2 linked regions of the Homo sapiens genome follow. The protein of the gene in region 1 interacts with the protein of each later gene in a pairwise test. Each region holds a gene or a part of one and is shown on either strand. Other genes may lie near its edges.

The links. Proteins that work in one complex are often made in the same cells at the same time.
Region 2: the proteins of VSIR (region 1) and BMP10 interact in binary tests that used the Homo sapiens proteins (3 or more experiments, as listed by UniProt).

The regions. Positions count from the first base shown.
Region 1 is NC_000010.11:71,756,521-71,760,020, forward strand, and holds part of VSIR (V-type immunoglobulin domain-containing suppressor of T-cell activation precursor), read right to left. Parts: intron 1-3,500.
Region 2 is NC_000002.12:68,864,898-68,868,397, forward strand, and holds part of BMP10 (bone morphogenetic protein 10 preproprotein), read right to left. Parts: intron 1,675-3,500; coding exon 734-1,674; 3' UTR 1-733. UniProt on the Homo sapiens protein: Required for maintaining the proliferative activity of embryonic cardiomyocytes by preventing premature activation of the negative cell cycle regulator CDKN1C/p57KIP and maintaining the required expression levels of cardiogenic factors such as MEF2C and NKX2-5.

The DNA.
Region 1 (3,500 bases):
AAAGTGCTGAGCCAAAGAGTATGTGCATTTTCTTTTAGGCTATTGCTAAATTGCCCTCCAAAAAGGTGTACACGAAGCTTCGCTGTCCCAACAGCATGAGGAGGTTTGATTTATTTCAGGGCATCTGCTGACTGCAGGAGTTTAGCTGGGAACAGACGTGCCCTCAGAACCACAACCAACATAAACGCATTTCCTTCCCAATTTTAGCCTTTCCCAGGGCCAAAAGATGGGCTGGGATACCTTGTCACAGTGTCAACTTCGCCCCAAAGAGCTCTGAGAGGTAAATGGCTGTGGTCTAAATGTTGCCTTTCCGCTATTTGTTTGGGAATAAAGGCTGTTTTTGTTTTGCTCTACAATCCGACAGCGTAAACAAGCTTTCAGGAGGTTTGTTCATACTGCAAATGAGAACAAACTGTTTTCAGTCACTTTAGAAGTACCCACTGGTACAGGAACAGTTGCTATGCTAATTACAAAGCAAGTTCCGCTCCACATTACAGCAGGTTCCCTGCAGATCTTAGCAAGGCTGCATTTTGACGTGGAATATTGAAAGTAAAGACATTCTATAACCCAGACACCTCAGTATTTCAAAACCCCCATCAAAGGACCTTATTGTGGGCAATATTTGAGAAGCCAGTTGCAAAGCACTCTCTTCTAGTGATCAAAGCAGGTCTCCTCTGGACGGCTAGTAAGCAACATTTTGTGAGCTTTGCCAGGTGCTCATTGATACCTGTTCCCTATCTGCCTTTGGAGGGTGAGCTTGGCCAGATATCCCTGCCTAACTTCTATCCCCAGGTAGAGATTTCCCCTATGTGGACCCTCTATCAGATCAGGACTTAATTTCACTTTGAGAGCCTGAGGCTTCCTTACGATCTGGGCTGAGTTGAGGCTGGGGCAGAGGGGCGCAGAGGTTTGGGGACAAGTCTGTGGATCCAGCTGCTTTCTGAAGCCGTAGGCATCTCTGCAGAGCTCAGCCTCGCCACAGTTCCCCACCCCTTCCCCCAAGCGTGGCCAGTGCCTGGGCTGGCACTCACAGGGGAAGGCAGGCATACTCACTCACCATCCAGAGCCAGGCTTATCCTGGGAAGGTGATCAGGCGCTGGCAGAGGTAGCTGCCGACACCGCACTAAGGAGTGTGCCAGGCCCTGACACAGCAGGGTGGGATGGGAGGGGCCTGGCCTGCTCAGGCGGCCTTTGTCCAGGGCCTGCCTGGTAGCCCACGGGGATATATGGAGGAGGGAGTTCGGCTGCTGAGGGTTGGGCTGCCTGGTTTCCCAGGGAGGAAGCTGGGTGAAAGCAGACAGCACATTCTGCTGCGCTGGGGGGTGGGAAGAAGTTCAAAGGGAGATGAGCTGCCTAGACCCCTTCTCTGAGCTCACTGAGAAACCACAGCCCCTCAGCAATGCAGGAGCTCCTTGGGCACCAACTTCTCTAGTCTCATTCCCCTACCTCAGGTTAACTTGTACTTTCATGTTATTTCATAGTCAAGCTACACTCTTACTTCCCAAGGATAACATTAAGAGGCTGGCACTGGGGCTGGGCATAGTGGCTCAATCCTGTAATCCCAGCACTTTGGGGAGCCAAGGCGGGTAGATCACTTGAGCCCAGGAGTTCGAGACCAGCCTGACCAACATGGCTCTGACCAAAATGCATGTTCTAATTTTGCTCTTGGCCTGTTTGTTGGTTTGAAAAAAGGGTAGCTGAGTAAAAAGTCACTGTAGCCTTTGAGTTGGGTTTTGTTGGGTCCGTGGTTTAGCTGATCCCCATTCCGGCTTAGGTCCTCGTGCATGTCCTCCTGGATGCCTTTGTATCTCCAGGGCCTAGCAGGGGCTGGTCCCCACTGGATGTCTGACACATACAGGGTATAGAGGGGTGTGGAAGCCAAGACCTCTTCTCAGAAGAGGGAGGTGCCCTTGCATTTTGTCTCCAAGCTGCTGGGTATTCTCACCCAACCTCTCAGCGCCAGGCACCCTTAGGGCAGTGCCCTCTTACCCTGTAGGGCACCTCTCTGGCAAGCACCGGGGGGCTAACTGCTACCCACTGCACTGCCCCAAGCTGGGAAGAAGGTGAGTATGCAGAGCTAAGCAGGCCTGCAGCCAGATCCCAGCTATGCTACCCTGGGCTATGTGAGCTTGGGCAAGTTAGCATACATCTCTAGGCCTCTCTTTCCATGGATACAGAGAAGATGGTGATGCCTACTTCATAGAGTTCTTATAAGAATTCCCTGAGGCTAGGCATGGTGGCTCACACCTGTAATCCCAGCACTTTGGAGGTCAAGGTGGGAAGATCAATTGAGCCCAGGAGTTCAAGACCAGCCTGGGCAACATAGCGAGAGTGCATCTCTACCAAAAGTGATTTTTTTGATTTTTTGGGACAGAGTCTCGCTCTGTCACCCAGGCTGGAGTGCAGTGGTGTGATCTCGGCTCACTGCAACTTCTGCCTCCCAGGTTCAAGCAGCTCTCATGTCTCAGCCTCCCGAGTAGCTGGGATTACAGATGCCTGCCACCATGCCAGGCAAATTTTGGGTTGTTTTTTTTTTGAGATGGAGTCTTGCTCTATCAGCAGGCTGGAGTGCAGTGGCGCGATCTCGGCTCACTGTAACCTCTGACTCCCGGGTTCAAGCGATTCTCTTGCCTCAGCCTCTTGAGTAGCTGGGACTACAGGCGTGCACCACCATGCCTGGCTAATTTTTGTGTTTTTAGTAGAGATGGGGTTTCACCCTGTTGGCCAGGCTGGTCTCGAACTCCTGGCCTCAAGCGATCTGCCTGCCTTGACCTCCTAAAGTGCTGGGATTACAGGCGTGAGCCACCGCACCTAACCCCAAAAATAATTTTTAAAAATTCACCAGACATGGTGATGCGTGCCTGTAGTCCCAGCTACTTGGGAGAATGAAGCAGGAAGATCACTTGCATCTGGAAGTTTGAGGCTTCAGTGAGCTGTGATTGCACCACTGCATTCCAGCCTGAGTGACAGAGAGAGAGTCTTTCTCAAAAAAAAAAAAAATTCCTGAGGCCAGGCGTGGTGACTCACACCTGTAATCCCAGCACTTTGGGAGGCCGAGGCAGTTAGATCATTTGTCAGTAGTTTGAGACCAGCCTGGCCAACATGGTGAAACCCCAGCTCCACTAAAAATACAAAAATTAGCCAGGCATTGTGGTGCACGCCTGTAATCTCATCCTAGCTACTCGGGAGGCTGAGGCAGAAGAATCGCTTGAATCCGGGAGGCGGAGGTTGCAGTGAGCCCAGATCGCGCCACTGCACTCCAGCCTGGGTAACAGAGTGAAACCGTGTTTCAGAAAATATACACACACACACACACACACACACACATATACACACACACACACATATATATACACACACACACATATACACACACACATATATACACACACACATATATACACACACACATATATACACACACACATATATATACACACACATATATATACACACACACATATATATACACACACACATACATATATATACACACACAC
Region 2 (3,500 bases), on another chromosome or scaffold:
TTCCTATTGTCTCAGGAACAGATTTCATGCTGGTTTCTTCTGTTTTCCTGCCTTGACCAGGAGTTGCCCTCTGGAGCACATTGGTCCTCCATGGGTTCATTTTTTCCTGTTGTACCTCTAAGACCTCTTAAGTCCATTTGGTTTCTGTATCAATTAACCCTTCCCTTCAAGCATCCTTTGCCAGGCCCCTCCTCTCTGAGCAACTACAGAAACTCAACTGACAAAAGCTACACTTACATTTCCAGAGTATTTAGGAAGGGTAATACTTCCTAGGATGATTAAAACCCTGATGTCAATTATCTTGACTTAAATCCTACTCAGAGAAGAGGTAACAGAGAACATACCATTGGCCTTTAATATGCATACATTTGAGTGAGTCATGCATGTAGATGAGTATAACCTGCCTGCATAGAACCAAAAGATTTTTGTAAGTTCATGTATGTACAAATATACATACACAAGTGTGTGTCTTTTGACACTGTATTTTGCCTAGGGGTTGTTTTCAAATCAACAGGGAGGTGGCATTGCCAGGAAATGGCAAGTCCAAAGAGAAAACAGATTGAAAGGGACTTAACTGGAGAGGAAAATATGCATTTCCTACAACAAACTGACCTGTCCATTTCCTGAAGGCAGCAAGCCTCTATTACTGTACACCCTTATTAAATAATCTCATTAAATAGGAACACCAAATATACACATTTACAGTTATTAAATAAGCCATAGGACTCTTCTTCTATCTACAGCCACATTCGGAGACGGCCATGCCTTCGTATTTAAACTTGTAGGTGACGACGCCTTTGTCTAAATAGAGGATGGAGATGGGCTCTAGCTTTGTGGGCACACAGCAGGCTTTGGAAGCTTTCTGGGAATTCTTGAGGTGGACCAAGGCCTGGATAATTGCATGCTTTGTGGGTGTGAGATGCTCTGCCAGGGGGTAGTTACAAACACCACGGCATTCATAGGCTTCGTATCCAGGCGGAGCGATGATCCAGGAGTCCCACCCAATCTCCTTGAAGTCGATGTAGAGCGGGGTCCTCTTACAGTAGTTTCCTTTGGCGTTCCTTCTGATTCGGGCAGTGGAGTCATAGATGATGTTTGATCTCATCTGCAACAAAGCCTCTTCCCCAGGTCCACTGGAAAAGCTATCCAGGCCCAAGTTGTCCAGCTCTGGAAGTTGCTCATGGGAAATCATTTCATTCAGTTCCTCCTTCCTCTCCTTGTCACTGCTTTGGTCATCAGAAAACACGATGAGCAAAGGGTTATGCTTATTCTGGGCACTGGTATCTATTTCTAGCCGTCCACTGCTGGCATCCTCAGCTTCATCGTGTTTGCTCTCAATGTGGACCTCCAGCTGGTGGGTGGATGAGCCTGACTTTTGCCAACGTCTGATGGCATCTGTGACATCAAAAGTCTCCCACTCACTGTTGGTTCCATATATCTCCCCAGACACCAAGACCAGCATGTTTCTTTCTCCCTCATTATCCCCTTTGCTCTCCAGCACTTCAAAAATGGTAATTTTCCGGTCTACTCCATCGTATATCATACGATCCCTTTGCACCAGTGTGTATAGCCTAAGTTCAGCCATGATGACCTCTTCATGGTGAGGAATGGACACATTGAAGAGGAGGGGGTATTTTCGGAGCCCATTAAAACTGACCGGCTGGGAAAACAGATCTGAAAAAAGAAATTTGCAAAAATCAGGTTTGCAGTGGGTCTCAGGGAAAAACAGATGCTTATTTATGTAATAAGAAGGCCTTCCCATGCACAAAGCTTAATGCAGAAAGAATGAAGGGAGAAAATCAATGAGAACAAACACAATGTCAGCATTCTGTGACACAGGAAATCCCAAAAGGTCAGTGGTAGAATGCCCAAAAGAGTTCAGCTGCCAAGACTAAAATGGAAAATGGGGGTCTAATGGATGGCATAAAACTCAGCCAACCTTGCTTGAATAGCTCATCAGCCACAGAATTACAGAACTGGGAGGGACCTTGGAGATTGTGTGGGCAAGTCCCCAAATTTCCTAACAAACAAAACGCCACCAAATGGGACATGTGGTGATTGTTCCTTTCTTGAAGCTTTTCGGGGATGAGGACTTCATGGTTTTTTAATATTTGTGTTTGTAGTGGGTGGAGATCCCCGCACAGTTGGCTGGACACTGGTCTTCCTAAAAGACCTCCATTTAGATCAGAGGTTGGTAAACTATAGCCTATGGGCCAATATGGGCCTGCTACCTGCTTTTGGAAATAAAGTTTTATTGGAACACAGCCTCATCCATTGTTTTTGTATTGTCTGTGGCTACTTTTGCACTATAATGGCAGAGTTAAATAGATACAACAAAGAACATATAGCCTGCAAAGCTTAAAATAGTTATTATCTGTCTGGCCCTTTACAGTAGAAACTTGCTGACTTCTGTTCTAGGCAACAAAGCCTGACAAGGCCAATAAGACAGCCATAAACCAAGAGGGTCTCAGCAATTGACTGCTGGTTATATGGTTCTCTATAAAGAGGAATGGGAGAAAATGAATCCTGGGACTAGATTGGTTGCCTTAGTCTTGTACCCCTAGCACCTGGCATGGGGCGTGACATGTATAACTCACTCAATAATGTTTATGAATCAACTCTGTAAAAGTCCTTTAGTCTTAGAAGCATACTTCCAAATACGATCATGTTGACTTCCTATCTGAATATTTCACAGTGAGCCCAAAGCTCCTGCACACTTGCCTCAGGTAATGAGTCTACAAGGAAGCCCTGAAGGCATTTGCCATCAGATTATCAAAGGACTCCATGGCACCGAAGATGCTAAGGACCACCAACTGGGGGTTCTCTGTCATCATTGGCAGCATTTCCCCAAGTTTATACTTAGTTCATGATCTCGGTGAGTCCCTGTTTCAGATTATAATCTTTTAATATTTTTCTTTAATTTGATCTAATTATTTTATACTTATTATCTATTTTAGACTGTTCCTAAGCAACATAATTCATTAAAGGAGAGATTTGAGGTGATATTTATGTGTGTTTGCTAAAAATCCATACTAAGAAAAATATACAATAATTTCACATGATTAATAGCTTTCTTTGGGTACCACCTAAATTAATCTTACACACTGCTAGTGGGAAATGCTGACCTACAGAATAAATTTAAACTCCCTGGCATGGCTCTCAAGACCAGCTATATCTGGGTCTTAACCTCCTGATCAGCCATAGCTTACATACGTCCTCCACAGTGCATGGAACATTGTGATTACTCAATAATATTTGTGAACAATTGAATGGATTTGTAAACCCTTCTGTTTTAACTACATTGATATCTTTACCACCTGTCAAAACACTCTTTTTTTCCCTGCAATTTTCACCTTTTCACATGTTCTTCTGACCCTTGGAAAGCCCTTTCACCTCACCTCCACCTATCCAGCTCTGACATCTCCTATAAAAGCCTCCCTTACTTCTCATCTGAAAGTTCCCTCCTCTCCCCTCTGAAATCATTTGATCACTTTATATCT